Linked DNA regions of Homo sapiens: region 1 is linked to region 2. A link means that fine-mapping ties the variant in region 2 to the expression of a gene that starts in the linked region. Tissue or cell type: whole blood. Region 2 holds a variant in brackets; the other region holds the start of a gene. All regions are shown on one strand. Distances are between the middles of the regions.

What was found. PIP is the estimated chance that this variant, and not a neighbour inherited with it, causes the effect.
Region 1: OLFM1 starts here. The variant in region 2 is fine-mapped to the expression of OLFM1 in whole blood (TOPMed, PIP 0.90).

What each region holds. Positions count from the first base shown.
Region 1 is chr9:135,083,801-135,091,901 of GRCh38, forward strand. It overlaps OLFM1 (olfactomedin 1), which reads left to right and starts at 3,868. Exons shown (of 6, transcript NM_001282611.2): 1 at 3,868-4,339; 2 at 6,395-6,544. The coding sequence starts at 4,190. RefSeq lists enhancers at 2,168-3,028, 3,029-3,889, 4,524-5,328, 5,329-6,132.
Region 2 is chr9:134,962,280-134,970,380 of GRCh38, forward strand. No RefSeq gene overlaps it. Among named protein-coding and RNA genes, the nearest start is that of FCN1, 48 kb to the left of the region's middle. The variant G/T (reference allele first, on the strand shown) is at 3,321.

The sequences.
Region 1 (8,101 bases), 120 kb after region 2:
CAGAGGCAGAGAGACAGGGTGTGACTGAGACATTTGGCTCTGAAAGCTGCTCAGTCGTGGCCCTTAGCCGTTCTCCCTCCCGGGGCCAAAATCGCAGGTCACACAGCCACGCCTGATGCAGGTGGTGTTTGGGAGACTGTCAGCTTATGGGAGGTGCTGCCAGGCACAGGGAGCCGGGCCAGGATGGAAATCCTCTCCAGGGAAGGGGGTGAGGAGCAGTTACGCCTCCACCCATGTGTGAACCCAGAGGCCTCAGAGGAGGGGAGTACAGGGAACACTTGGCTCAGAAGACCCATGCTGGTCTTCTGTGGCTGCCGAGAGGGAGTGCCCAGGGGACCTGTGGCTCCTCCCATTCTGCCTGGCTTGAGGCCAGGTCCTTTCCTTGCTCCTGGAATGTTCCAGCACAGAAAGGGAATGAAAAAGCTACATACAACGTAGAAAAAGGAGAGGTGGCTCCATGTGGGACCTCTCTCTGTGTCTCTTCTCTCTCTGTGTCACTCTATCTTTCTTCTCTCTCTCTCTTCTCTCTCTGTCTCTCATCTCTCTCTCTGTCTCTCCTCTCTCCGTCTCTTCTCTCTCTCCTCTCTGTCTCTATTATCTCTCCTCTCTGTCTCTCTTCTGTCTCTCCTCTCTGTCTCTATTATCTCTCCTCTCTGTCTCTCTTCTCTCTGTCTCTCCTCTCTCTGTTTCTCCTCTCTTCTCTCTCCTCTCTCTCTGTCTCTCTCTCCATTTCTTTGTCTTCCTCTCTGTCTCCTCTCTGTTTCTTTGTCTTTCTGTCTCTCTGCCTTTGTCTCTCTCTCTCTCTCTTCTTCTCCCCTTCTCCCTCCCTTTCTTCCTCCCCTCCCCTTGTTTCCCTTCAAGATATTTGCCAATAGCCTGAGGAGAGTATGCGTATTTTTAAACAGCAACCGGGCATCCAAACTTTGTCCCTTGAGGGCATCCTTTGCCAAGGAGCATCGGGAAGTGGCCCAGAGACCTGCTTCCCTCCAAGCAGCCACTCCTGGCTCTGGGACCTGAGTAGGTTTGCATCCTGCGGACCTCACTGTTCTGACTGTGGGTGTCAGTGGTCGTCTGACTGTGGGTGTTGGTGTCGTCTGTGCCCTATCAGCTCACCATGTGGCTGTCCTAGGGCTTCTCGAGGTGATTCCCCAATAGCCCACGTGTGTCCGCCTCTTGTAAGGTCTATAGCAAGCTGGGCAGGAGCACCCTCTCACACTTGCGTCTTCTGAGCTCTGAAGCCGGGAGATGCAGAGGGGGTGTGCTTGTTTTTATGTGTGTTGATGAATTTGTACAGAGTCCACCAAGGTCAAGGCCTGTAGGGGGCTGGCATGAGGATAGAGACGTGGCTGTTCTAACCTGTCATGACAGGGAGGGTGGTGCAGGCTCGTGCCAGGACTCAGAAAGGGGTGGGCAACCTCCTGTCCTTCCCACGAGCGTGGAAGGCAAGGGCCCATGAAATGTCTTCTGGCGGCCTCTGTGGCTCGTGGAACTGTGCGGACAGCCAGGGCTGCTGTGGCCATGCAACTCATGCCACTTCTGGGGCTCGTGAGATTTAACTATGGCCATGACATTTATAAGACGAGGATGCCACCATGTGTATGGGCTTAGCCCTGGAAATAGGCTGTCACCATATGACCTTGGACAGGTCTTATCATCTTTCTAGGCCTGAGATTCCTCATCTATACAGTGGAGTCAATGCCACCACACCATGCACTTCAGTAAGGATTGGGTGCCAGGCATGGCAAAGCCCCAGTGCCACCAGGGGCGCAGCACCTGCCCCATCAGCATCCGTATGATTGTTCAGAGCTGCAGGTGTGATGAGCCCTGGCTTTAAGAGAAGTCGTGAAGAAATTGGGATTGAAAGTCCTCTTTAGGAACACTTGGTATTGCCTGGCGCCATGGATCCCCTAATCCAAATGCCTTCATTCTTCAACGATCCATACTTTCCTTCTGGAATGCTCCATGGCCTTCTAAATCCAATTACACTTACTCAAGCCTTATCTGACGACCCTTTCAAAACCATTATGCCCACTGAATCACAGATTTTAGAAACTGGACAGGACAGTTTGGAGCAGGTGCAGGTTGGAGCCGCTCAGGTGCAGGTTGGAGCCGCTCAGGTGCAGGTTAGAGCAGTCCAAGTGCAGGTTAATCTTTTACTTCGTTAAATAAATAAATGTCTATGGCTTCTGAGATGGCCTGACAGTTTTGTGGATTGGATTGGGTTGCATTTGAATTTGTTCCCGCAGAACAAGTGGTCCTTGTCCTTCCGCAGCGGGAAGCGGCGTGAGTGATCTGGACAGACACGGCTTGTGGCCTTGAATCGGTGTTAAACATGCATGGCCAGAGGAGGGGGGCGAAGCCAGCCCAACCGGACTTGTGTCTCCGCCTGGGCCCAGTCTGTGAGCCGGGCCTGCAGTCCCAGCTTACACTGGGAGATGGCGCCCTTCCCCAACAGTTGGAATTTCCTGGCATCCGACCCAGCCCGGCTGCCTGAGATTACAGCATTAATCAGAAAAGCAGATCTGAGGGGCTCATTTAACTAGCGGGTCTCACACCCAGCACTCAGGCCAGGATCATCTTGGCTGCAGCTGAAGTCTCTTCAGCCGAGGACTGCGCACACAGAGAGAAAAGCCCCAGGAAGGCGTTGTTCCTCTCAGGCGGGCGCCAGGGAGGCGCGCTCCTTCCGGCCCGGCGTCCGTCTTTCAAATCCCATCCAGGAAGGGAGATTAATTTTCGCCCAGGCAGAGAAGAGTGTAGTGAGTGATCTGGAGGATTCTTTCCTTCCCAAATGGCTGGGAAAGCTTAATGGAAGGCCCCGGAGGAAGTGGCTTTCATCTCCGATTAGAAGCCTTCTGTAAATGCAAAAGCCCTATTAACGTGTTTGACCCAGTCAGGCCTGCGCTTCAGGTGGGACTGACACGCGTGAGTCCTGCTGCGGTCGCCGCAGAGGGCCGGGAAGAGGGGCAGCGTGCGCCACTTGCCCTGCCTCTGTGCCTGGGCGCCATGACTCGAGCGCCACCCCTGAGTCAGTAAGGACACCCCCCAACCCACACCCCTCCACCACAGACCCCAGTCCCCGCCCCACACACCCACCTCCCCAACACCAGGTTCATGGGCGTGGTCCCTTCAGCTCCTGAGGTCCAGGCCTGAGCCCCAGACCTTATGCAGCTCCTGCCGGGTGTGCGCCCTCCCAGGGCCCTCACTGCGCACCGCGGGCCACGGCAGACCACCCCAGCCCCCGCCTTGCTGTGCAGGTGTCAGGAGTGCCGGTTGGCTCCCTTCCTCCCAAGCAAGGCCTTAGGGCACCGCGGCTGCCCTGGGATCGCAGGGGCGCCTTTAGCTCTCCACCGATGCCCCGACGCCCCCCTGGCGCTGGAGGCCCTCGCGAGTCTGGCTGCTTTTCGGAGCCTGCCCTGCCTGCTGGGTTTCAGGCGACGGCCCAGGCTGGCTGGGACCCTCGAATCACCGCGGAAAAGGGCTCCAGTAGGCAGGACGGCGCCGTCTCTCTGCCGGCAACCTTTGCCCCAAAGCGGACCCTCTGCGGGGATCGGAGAGGGATGCCCCGGCGTGAGGATGGGAGAAGCCCCGGGACGGGAGGGCCGCGGGCCGTGCCCCCAGCTGGAGTCCCCGCGCCGCCGCCGGGTATTTTATGATCTGGGGGTGGTGGTGTGTCCGTCTCCTCATGTCACCCTGATCCCAACTCCTGGGCGGACTGGAGTTTGCAGACCTCGCTGCCAGCAGCCAGGGGGCGGCGGGGAGCCGAGCGAGAGGAAAAATCCACCCATTTCCTGGGCGGATTGCGTCGGTCCCGCCCGGCCGAGCCCCGCCTCCCGGCCGCGGCCCCCGCGCGCAGCCCGCGCAGCGCTCAGAGCCGGACGGCGCTTCCCGGTGGCGGCGGAGGAGCCCGGAGGGACGCAGCCGGGCAAGGCAGGGCGCAGGGCGGGCGGCGCGAGGCGCAGGGCGCGGCGGGCAGAGGCCACCTGGCCACCTTCCCTGGCGCCCGGGGAAGGCGCGGCGATGGCCGGGGCGCGCGGGGCGGCGGCGGCGGCGGGCGGGCGGCGGCGGGCCGAGGGGGCGCGGGGACACAGCCAGGCGCCCCTGCCCGCCGCGGTGCCCGCCGCCTGAAGGCCGCCTGGGCGCGGGAGCCGGTGCCAGCTCGGAGCGGGCGCTGGAGGCAGCTCGAGGCGCGATGTCGGTGCCGCTGCTCAAGATCGGGGTCGTGCTGAGCACCATGGCCATGATCACTAACTGGATGTCCCAGACGCTGCCCTCGCTGGTGGGCCTCAACACCACCAAGCTCTCGGCGGCCGGCGGCGGGACGCTGGACCGCAGCACCGGCGTAAGTGCGCCCGCCGGCCGCCTTGGCGCGGCTCCTCCTCCTCCTCCTCCTCCCCCTCCTCGGTCCGGAGCCCCGGGCTGGGCGGGCGCCGCGCGGGACCCGAGTCGCCCAGGGAGGCGGCGGGGAGCAGGGCGGGCAAGGGCAGGCGTCGCGGGCCGGCGCAGCGGTGGCGACCCTGCTCCCCGCTCCCCCAGCCTGGGCCACTCCATCTCCGCCCGCGCGCCCCTGGGGCGGCGTTTCCTTCGTCTGGGCCCCTCGCCGCGGGGCCGGGGGAGCTTGGTGGGTTCTCGGAGGCTTGGAGTCCTGGGTCAGTAATCATGAGCCCCCCATTGAAAAGGTTAGGAAACTAAGGCTGGGGACTTGGGGACTTGTCCAAGGTCACACTCAGCGAGTGAGGGGTGGAGCCGCCGCTAGACCCTAGTCTGGGCTCGGTCCAGCGGGGACTGAGCCCGCCCTAGTTTGTAAAAGCCAGACTGGCCGGACCGGGCTGGGAGTGGGGCCCCAGCCGGTGGGCTCCGGAGCTCCTGCCCGCGCCTGCATTCCCAAAGTCCCAAGGCGCCCTTTCCTCCCCAGTCCATAGGAGGGTTTGTTCCTTCTCCTCCGAGGACGGTGCCGAGGGGCTTGGGTGGGGCCCCTGGGAGCCTGCCCTTGGGCGCTCACCCCCTCGCCTTTGCCTTCGTCTTCTGCGCGCACCCCTCCCTCCTGGCCTCTGAAATTGAAATCGCGTCTCCCTCTCGAGCCTAGCGGGAGGGGAACCGTGGCCGGGGCTGCTTCTGGGCAGAGCTGACTTAGATGGCTGAGCGAGGCTGAGCTGAAACCGCCACCCGGAGGGCCGCGCGGGGAAGGGGCCGCTGCCGGGAAGGCGCGCCCCAGACCACTGGCCCTTTAGGCTGAAAGGAGAGGTGAAGGACGTGAGTCTCCCTCCCTCTCTCTTTTTGCTGCCAGGGGTTTAGTGCCCTGCGAAGAGGGCTCCGTGGTGTGGCTCCCTCCTAAGACCCCTCTTGAGGCCGCCCTCCCTGCTCCTTCAGGAATCGGAGGGCGATTCCTCCATGATGACTTTGTTCCGGCCTGCCGGTCCCGATCTTCTGGGGTTGGGAATGAATGAGATTAAAGATATGACTACTATAGATTCTACCCGCCCAACTTCTCCTCCCCATCTTCATGCTAAAAATAGCAGAGAGATGACCTGATGCCACCGGAGGGGAGCGTGCTCAGAGACAGTAGGGCCAGCAGCAGGATGGAGCTGTGTAGGCTCAGGAGTGCCCGCCCCGGTACCTGGCAGGGCTGGGCTGCAAGGTTAGACCAGACATGGGCAGCTCCGGTTTCTTTGGTGATCTTTGGGCAAACCTCAGGACTGAGGTTGGGGGTGACCCCTGCACAGCATGTCACCAGCAATTTGGCGACCTCCACCAAATGGCTCGTGGGGGGAGCCCACAAGGAGCTGGAAACCTAGTGTTTTCTCGGGTCGGTCTGTGCCACGCTGCCGGCTGGGAGGTTGCTGTAGCTCGGGGTTCATCACAGCTCTGGGCGAATAGGCTGCTGGATCTGGGGCTGTTACAGTGGGTGCTTCGTCTGCAAGTGTCAGGGAACGGCAGGGCGAGGCTTGGTGGTGCCAGCCACCCGTGCTTGACTTACGGGAAGGATATCCTGTTTCTGAAATACGTGCCCGCTGCAAGCCACCCAGCGTTTGCTTTCCTGCCTTGCTCCTAGTCCAGCCTGTGGCCTCCAGTTGCCCCTCCCATCCACCCAGCAGATCAATTTGGCCAGACGACAAACTCCAGACATCCCTTGAGTTGAACTTAAATTTTAAGAACGTAAAGGGTCTTGCCTCTTTGACATCCTTCCAGCCCTGAGCCCCCTAACAGGAGACCTGTGCCTCTTTGTTCCCAGGGACCCTTTCTTCCCTTTGGGTCAAACATGTCTTGGGACCATTTCCTCCCATCTTTTCCTTGGGGGTGGATGTGGACAGTTTCCCCTGGTTGTTGGCTCTGATACACAACCTCATGGTCTCCCTTTCTCTCCTTCCCTCTCCCTTCCCGCCCCGCCCCTCTCCAGGTGCTGCCCACCAACCCTGAGGAGAGCTGGCAGGTGTACAGCTCTGCCCAGGACAGCGAGGGCAGGTGTATCTGCACAGTGGTCGCTCCACAGCAGACCATGTGTTCACGGGATGCCCGCACAAAACAGCTGAGGCAGCTACTGGAGAAGGTGAGTCTGCGCAGAGTGTGTGAGTTTGTATGTGTGTGTGTTTGTGTGTGTGTGTGTGTGTGTACATGCCTGTGTGCTCACACCAGCACCAAGGCTTGGCTAGCTTGCAGGCCCCATTTTGACTCTTTCCTGGTTTGTCTCCACTCAAAATATTTGTGAATGAGTGAAAGGGTGGATGGACGGATGGGTGGATGGGTGGGTGGATGGATGGACGGATGGGTGGATGGGTGGGTGGACACACAGGTGGATTGAGACTTCCAAGGGTGGTCCAGGAAGAGAGGACTAGACCTGCCCCCTGTCACCACAGGCTCCACTGAGAAGTCACATGGGCATGGTGAGACGGGACACAAGGCTCGTCTCTGAGTGATGTCATAATCTGTGTGCACAGGGCTGGGGCTGTCACCCAGCAGCTACCTTGGAGAGCGCCCATAGGCCCAGGAATGCATGGCCATTTGGATTTTACGAGATGAGATCTTTTTTCTGCCCTTGAATGGTTGTACCTGGCCAGTGGCTGGACAGGTGCTCATCACCATGAATGCCTTCCTGGGGCTAAAGCAGGCCATGCTGTCACCTTCAGAACCACATGGGAACAGCAGGTTTGCATATGTCGTTTGCATAACATATTTTGAATCCGTTATTTCACTTAATCTTCACAAGAACCATGTGAAGTTGGTGAGATTTTTCACTCCAGTTCAAGAAAAGGAAATTTGGCTCCCAAGGGGTGGACTTATTTGTCCCAAGCCAAACAGCTGTTAGTAGGGAAGTGGGCACTCGGACCCACATGGCCGAGCTCATCACCTGGTTCAGTCTCCTCCACTCCCCACTTTAGTCAGGGGGCCTTCTCCTAATGGGCACAGCCCACCAGCCTTTTGGCACATTCCACCCAAGGACCCCGTATTCTGTGGTTAACCTGGGTTCTGGGGGCCCCATAGGAGAGTTACCAAGGGAACAAGGAGGAATGGTGGGCCCTTCTGTTCCACCCATTGATTCCCCAGAAGAAAGGTGCATTTGCATGTAGTGCCTATGGGCAGGGAACTTTCCCACCCTGAGGGAGTGGGGTCACACCACACACACGCACACTCACAAACACACTCACACATAGTCACACACACACTCACACACAGTCACACACATTCACACATAGTCACACACACATTCACACAGTCTCACACACACATAGTCACACAGTCACACTCACATAGTCACACACTCATAGTCACACACACACACAGTCACACACTCACAGTCACACACTCACACATAGTCACACAGTCACACACACTCACATAGTCACACACACTCACATAGTCACACACACACAGTCACACACTCACACATAGTCTCACACACACACAGTCACACTCACACATAGTCACACACTCATAGTCACACACACCCACACATAGTCACACACACTCACACAGTCACACACACACTCACACATAGTCACACAGTCACACACACTCACATAGTCACACACACTCACAGTCACACACACACTCACACATAGTCACACACACTCACACACAGTCACACACACACTCACACATAGTCACA
Region 2 (8,101 bases):
AACTTTAATTGGGCTTTTTAAAGACCACAAAAGCAAATATATGCCCTTAAAGAAACCCTTTGGTAACTTGCTCAGAACATAAAGGTGACTATTAGCATGTGCTGATTTGAAATACCAAGAAGAAAATATCTCCCACATCAACATATGCTAGTGTAAGGCATGTCCTGTTTTGCATAGCTCTCACGGTTCCCCACCCTAACACTAGGGCCCGCCTGTCCTAGAGGGCAGCATGCTTGAAATCAGAAGACTGCATTTGGCCTGGCTCCACATGCCCCTTAACATTGTTCTTTTTTGTTTTCTTTGAGACAGGGCCTGTCGCCCAGGCTGGAGTGCAGTGGTGTAATCTTGGCTCACCACAACCTCCACCTCTCAGCAACCTCCGCCCCCCAGCAACCTCCACCTCCCGGCAAACTCCACCTCCTGGGTTCAAGCCATTCTTGTGTCTCAGCCTCCCGAGTAGCTGGGATTATAGGCATACGCCACCACACCCGGCTAGTTTTTGCATTTTTAGTAGAGAGAGAGTTTTGCCATGTTGGCCAGGCTGTTCTCGAACCCCTGACCTCAAGTGAGCCACCCACCTCGGCCTCCCTAAGTGCTGGGATTACAGCCATGAGTCACCGCGCCCGGCCGCTCCTTAACATTGTTGAGCTCCCCTTTCCTCCTCTGCGTAATTAGTAAGATCTCTTCCACCTGCCTCATGGGCTGACTGAGGGAACAACCCAGACAGGGATGATCATGACGGTGCTGTTGGCTGACTGTGGGGCTCGACACTGTGCTCATCACTTTATGCATCTGAGATGGAAATGGTCTCAGCCACAGGCACAGATGGGGAACCCAAGGCAAAGAGAGGTTAAGTAACTTACCCTTGGTCATGCAGACAGTGGCTGAGCCCGAATTCAGCCCCAGTGTCTTTAACTCCAGGTGTGAGGGCAGCGGCTCCAGCACGCGAGGCCCCAGGAGCCAGGCACTGCTCACAGCACCAGGCGTGACCGCAGCGGCTCCAGCACGCGGGGCCCCGGGAGCCAGGCACTGCTCGCAGCGCGGGTCGCTCACGTGTTCTTTGGAGGCAAATCCATGCGGCGTTCACACACACGGACCTTGCAGTTGCTTGCGCCTTTTTTTCTCTCCAACTCATCACAGGGCATGACTTCTCTCCAAGCTGCCTGAAATAAAATGAATAACTTTTTATGTGAAGTTCTTCGTGCTGAAGAGAACTTGTTCCAAATGGGGAATAATTGGCCTTCCAGGGCTCCATACCGGCAATGAAGTGAAAGATGCTGACGTTTCAGAGGTGTGGAAATAAAAGGACTAAAAATGGGATTCGGAGCAGCTAATGAGGGCAGATCCGCAGGGTTTGAGAGACAAAATGGGGATCGCAGGTGGAAGCTGGCACCGCGGCCAGGGGCAGCCCACGCAGCAGCGAGTGGGGCCGAGGTCGTGGGCGGGTGTCCGGACCCTCATCACAGGAACTTGCTGGAACCCCCAGAGGCCCCGGCCTCTGCTGGCTTTGAGGCCTCAGACCTCCCTAGTCCAGTCACGAGCCACCGAGCCCCCTATACGAGTCTGCTCAGCGGCTGTATGAAGCATGTTATGTTTGACGAAGGATTAAACACCAGAAATGTATTGTCCCCGGTTCTGGAGGCTGGAAGTCTGAGATCAAGGGGCTGGCAGGGCTGGTTCCTTCTGAGACCCCTCTCCCTGGCCTGTGGGTGCCATCTTCTCTCTCTGTGGGTGTCCATGTCTTTACCACCCCTTCTCCTAAGGACACCAGTCCTATTGGATTAAGGTCCACCCTAATGGCCCCATTTTAACTTAGTTACCTCTCTGAAAATCCTACCTCCAAATACGATCACAGACTCCAAGCTGCTGGGGTGAGGACTTCAACATGTGAATTTGGGGCGAGGGGCAGCTTGGTTCAGCTCCTAACATGCATGTCAGCCACGCTCTCACTCACTCATCCTTGTTTTGATTCGTTTACATGGTGCATGTCTCCGGTGCCTACTGTGTGCTAAGCTGGGCCAAGACAGAAGCTGCCTGCCAGGAGCCCAGTGCCCAGTGGAGGAGGAGGGATGGAGCAACAGGGCAGTAGGACGGGGTGTGGCTGTGCCCCAGATGGGGAGGAGTTAGCCCTGGCCCCATGTGCAGTGCAGCCTCCGGGTGCCCACCGCTCTGGGACTACAGAGTAGCTCCTTGGACAGTCATGTCTTCAGAACTGAGAGCTGAGATGACCCAGTTGGCCCATATTAGGCAGTTTCCAGTCCAGGAAAGGAGGGGGTGGCATCAAGACCTGAGCTCTGGGGAGCACATTTTGGGGTCCACATTCTTGCTTTGCTTGTGGAATGCCTGCAGGAGCTGGAGGCCACGCCACAGAGCCCTTGGGAGGAGAAACGGCCACGTGTGGAGGGCAGTCTGATGGCAGGTATCCACGCTGAAGATACATGTGTCCTTTGAACCAGCCCCCAGTTCCCTGGGAGAATGTCTCAGATCCCTAGGCAAAGGCACAAAGATCTGGTGTGTTTACTGCTGTAAGAGACAGCCCCAAACCTCGGCAGTTTCTCCCAACATAGAAACCCACAGAGCGATGCTGTGATCCAGGTCCTGCCTGCTCCATGGTACCACCCTTCTCTGGTTCAGCAGACAGAGAGGGAGAGAGCGTGAGGACCACACATGAGGGGTTTTATGGCTGACCAGAAGCAGAACACAGCACTTCCTCTCACCTCCCATTGACCAGACTCCAGTACACACAGGACCGCCTGAGAAACATGTGCACCGGGGGAAGAGAGCGTGGTTGGAACACCAGCCATCTCTCATGCAATATTTATCTAAATTCTAAAATAATTGAGCATTGAATCCAACTGGAACTCCCTGTAGGTGAGGGGTTAAAGACATTTAATGGTGTCACCGGGCATTTGTCCATTATTCACTTACTCAAGAAACATTTATTAGGGCATCATGTTATTTGAAATATAATGCCTAAAATATCAAAACTAATGACACATATCCACATTTCCAGATGCAAGACCTTCTCCTTGACATGTTTAAATGAAAAGATCAGGATTCAACATGGGTTGTATACTATCATCCAATTTATAAAAATTAAATATTTATATCTGCAGGCATAAGCCAGCATAGAGAAATATGGAAAGATTTTCACAGAAATTCTAAGATATGGCTACCATTTCTTTGGTAATCCTCACTTCAAGAGGTGGAGTTCAACTCATTTCCCCTTGAACGTGGGCTGGACCTGGTGTCCGGATGGGTTACAGTGTGGCCTCAGAGTTGGTCAAGCCTGGCATTGCAGCCTCTTCCTGCTTTCTCTC[G/T]TGCATCACTGGCTCTTGGGGAAGCCAGTTGTCACATTGCAGAGACCCAGGAACAGCCCTACCAGGGGCCCACATGGTGTGGACTGAAGCCCTCTGCCCATGGCCAAATGCACCAGCTTGGAAGCAGCTCCTCCCACCCCAGTTGAGCGTTCTGATGAATACTGCCCTGGCCAACAACTTGACTGCAACTTCATGAGAGACCCTGGGGCAGAAGCACCCCAATTCCTGACCCACAGACCCTGAGATAAGAGATGTTTCTTGTTGAAACTTCTATGTTTTGGGTTAATTTGCTGCATGGTAGCAGATGACAAACACACCATCTTTGTGAGGTGATGGGCGGTGACGCTGGCCAGCCACAGCCTTCCCCCATGCTTGCCCTCTGTGTCCACTCAGAGCAGAATCTGAGAAACCCCTGGATCTGGTGCTACCAGGCCTGCCTCCCTGTCGTGCCCAGCCCTTCAGCCATCCCTTTGCAAGGACACATGCCTTGGTGAGTCATTGTAACTATTGCCTCTCCAAGGCCCAAACCCACAGGGACAGGCATCTCCAGCATGGGGCACAGCAGAGCCCTTAGCAAATTCTCAGCAAATGCGCCAAGAAGGAAGGCCTGCAGGCTTCTCTTTACTGTGCAGCCTTCCACGATGAACACGCATGGCTTTTAAAACTGGGGAAATAAAGTTTCTAAAGTAATCGAGCTGATCCAAGGACTCTCACTGATAACTTGAAAGGCTCCACAATGAGCAGGAAGACTCATGGTGACCAGTTCCTGACGCAGCCTCTAGGGAGGTAGCTGAGATGCCAGGGTGGAGCCGCCCTTGCCTTTCTCGCCTCCTAACTGTCTGGACGCAGGGTTGTTTGCCTGGAGTCAAAGAGGGTAAAAATGGGTTTGTTGCTTGGTAAGAAGACCAGGTGCCAATGCACCGAGGGTGAGACAGCAAGCCTAACAGAGCCAGGTGGGCGTGTCCTCCCCTTCGCTGGAACTCCTGCCTGCTGATATCAAGGTCGTCCTGAAAAGGCCGCTAGGGAGTTGGTCTTGATGCGCCTGTGGGCCGAGCAGGTGTCTAATAGCCTGAGGCCGCTGCCTATTTAAGAACCACTTTTCCAAGCCCCCATTTCTCCCATGACAAAGGGAACTCACGGGTGATGCCTGAAGGCCCTGTGTGCCATGGTGGCCAGCACGGTCCAGTCTGTGACCTTGTTCTGGGGGATGGAGAGAGGAGGAGGAGGGGGATCCCAGCCACCTGGAGCCTGCAGCTCACCCATGCCTGCCCTGCATTTAGCAGCCACAGCCCTGGCGGGGGACAATGGCCTTGCCGGGATTGGTGGGCAGTGGCACCAGAAGTCTGGGCTGGTTGCTACCCTCTGGTGGCCCTGGGCCCTCCTTTCTTGAATGTTCGGGCCAGTTCCCTCCTCTGTGCTTCAAGGCTGCTGGTGGACTCTGGGCTCTGCAGATGCCACATGCAGTTCTGGTCTCGGGAACAGCTTTGCAGCTGGGCTTACCTGATGTGAAAGCAATAAATGAGTCCCCCAGTGCCTCCCAGCCCAGACTGGGGCAAGAGGGGTTGCCCAAGGGGTTTGCAACTCACGCTGAGAGCAGCCATCCTGAGAAAAGCCTCTAGCTATGCTGCCCAATTACGCAGCCTCCTTGGGGGCACTGGGCCATCCACATCCCTCAAGTCCCTCAACGGTGACCCAGGGACAAGCCCCATGCCCCCCTCAGAGCCGCTGCACGGATGAAAAGAGGGAGAATGTCCCACGGCAGCGCCCCGCGTGGGATCGCCGGACAGGGGTGCCTTCGCAGGCCGCTGTAGACATGCAGTTTCACATTCATGCTTCACAATTGATCTGTGGGCTTCGTGTGTCCTCAGCTTTAGGAGATACGTCCGGGTGCCCCTCAGCAGTGCCTGTGCCACTTGCCCCCCAAGGGGCAGTCGACCTTCCTGTGCACCCTCAGCTCGTCCTGGTGGAGAGAATAAGGCTCCCCGAGGTGACCCCCTATCTGCGCTATTACTGCTGCCTTCTCAGACCATGAGAAGGAACCCTGAGAAAGAACTTCTTCAGTTTAGAGGGAGTGCGTCTGCGTCTGCAGTAGGCAGTAGCAGCAGGCAGTGGCCTGGGCGTGGGCAGTTGCTGTCAGCTCAGAGCAGGAAACGGGCAGCTGAGGAGGCCAGGCTCCTCGGGCATCTGCGGCTGCGTCTGCCCGCGTGGACATGGGACTCTCTCACTGCAGCCCCAGAGCGCAGCCTCAGCAGAACCAGCCTGCTCACAGCAGCCTCCTGTCTGATTAATCAGGGGGAGGAAGGGCTGCCCATAAGCAGACTCATTTTATTCTAATGCTGCTTTCTCAAGATTTTAATTTTCCATAGTGCTACATTCTAGTCCCCTTTCCTTAAAAAAAAAAAAAAAGAAGAAGAAGAAGAAGAGATATAATTGGGACAATCCTCTATCATATACATGCTATCTTATTCCACCTCGAGGTCTGCTTCCAAAAAGCAATTGTGTGCTACTTAATGGACAAGCACTCAGTGACTATGGGGGTAGAACAGAGCTCAGATTTCAAGATTTCAGCAGGATGTGGGCGGCCTGACTGTTCCCGTGGCAGGAGGGACCATCCTCCATCCCAGCTCCGGAGCAGCTGCCTGGCCTTGCGCAGAGCCCTTGGGGCCCTGTCCTGAAGCTGCTTCCCTGGAATTAATTGCTGCAAATTCCGCCCACCCAATGGCGCTGAAAGTGGGCTGAGCACCTATTCTCTTTCACTTGTCAATTGCAGCAAATCCAACACAGGCTTCATGTAATGAAAGGAAATGAAGACGAGTCCAGGTGGGCTGCGGCCAGTGATGCCTCCAGCGAACCAGAGGGAACTCTGGTCCCTTGGGTGCAGTTTAAATGCTGCCACCCTAGGGACAACCAGGACCTGGAATGTGTCTGGCCAGGACAGTGCAGCATTTCCTGACCCTGTCTAGGAAGGTGGAGGGACCGGAGCATTTCAGCAGCCCATCTCTACGCCAGGAAGGGGACTGGGTGTCCAATGTCCAGGTCTCAGTGTCTCACTGACATCTCCCAGCATGGCTCAGAGAGGCGCAGTGAGCTGCTCAAGGTCACACAGCCGAGGAGCAGCAGAGGGGAAGTCCACCCTCTGTGTGAGTCTCCCGACCCGAGCTCACCCCACCACATCGCAAGGTTGCCAAGGCAGCTCCAGCACCAGAAGGCAAGTTGCTCGGTTCCAAAAACAGTCCCTGGGTCCGGCAGCATAGACTTTAGGCATATCCAGGAGCCAGGACAAAGACACTTCCTGAGGGCAGCCCTAGGGCCTCATCTCTGCAAGATCCAATCATCTGCAGGGGCCAGAAAGTTCTATCGAGGGAAAAGGCTCAGGTCCCATCTCCTTTGCTGACCGTCTGTGACCTCAGCTTGCCTGGCCAGACCCTGTTTCTGCACATGGAAGAGGAGATGGGGGACTGCAGCTGGGGTGTGAAATGTGGACCTGGAAATGCTTGGTAAGCCGCAGCGGCTGACAAATACTACCTGGACGGAGCACAGAGAAGCCCCAGCATCACTCTTCTGGGCGTATACATGGCCGTGTCACTGCCACAGCTCAGCTCTCCACAAGGATGGAGAGGAACAAGCCATTCATCACCTCCTGGGGTGGAATCTTGTTAACTTAGGGCCGATGTCACCCCAGGGAGACAAAGCTGCACCAGGGCAGGGGAGGCTGGAAGGGCCAGGACAGGGGCTTGGGTCTCATCCCCGGGTTTCACAGCTGGAAAAGCCAGATGGAGACTGAGAGGCAGTCTCTGAGGCTAAAACCTGGGCTGGGAACAGAAAGGGGTATGTGAAAGACACCATGTGGCCTAGGACTCAACTTCAGCGGTGATTCCGAGGGAAGCATATCAGCAGTGAGTGTGGGAGTGGATAAGGCACAGGTGGCGCTTGCTGGTCACAACGACTGCTTGGCCCACCTGAAGGCCGCCTCCTCCAGGAAGCCTGCCCGGAGTCCTGCTTCCCAGCTCGTGACCCCAGCTGCCTGCAGATAAACACCTCAACAGGACCCCAGTTGCGGGTTACTTCCCGCAGGCATTTCAGTGGCCCAGGTCCATGGTCCCTGACAGCCCTGATGGGAAAACTCTGTTCTCTCTGCTGCATCAGCACTGTGCACTGGGGATCCTCCAGCCTCCTCCTCTCCCCCTGCATCCTGGGTCCCCCATTGCCAGCCTTCTTTAACCCTGCTCCCCTCTCCCATAGGACCCAAACCCCGCCTGTGATCTCTACTTTCCAGGACCCCAAGGTCTCCTGCCTGCTTTTCACGACTCCAACTGAAGGACCTTGCCCTGGAGTGAGGGCAGCCAGGCTGGTACCATGTGGCCTGAGGTGGGGGCTGGTGCTGACTGCCCTCCTCATAGGATGTTTTCCTGTGATCACCCTCAGAGCCCAGAGAGGGGCTTGTGCCCTCCTTGCTCACAGGCACCTGTGGCTTCTCCTGGGAGGCCAGGTCTCCTTGCCTGGCTGTTCCCTGTTCGCTTTCCTCCTCTCCTTTTCTTTCCTCACTTGACTGGGAGCTTGGCGAGGAGGTGAGCTGTGTCTTCTCTCTTTCCCCAGGTTTACTCATTCATAGTATGTGGCTTAGGGCACATGAACTATACTATGAATGCATGCATGAATGAATGAATGCGCGAATGAATGTACGAATGAATGAATCATAAGTGAATGAATGCACAAATGAGTGCATGAATAAATGAATGAATGCATGAATAAATGAGTACACGAATGAATGAATACATGAA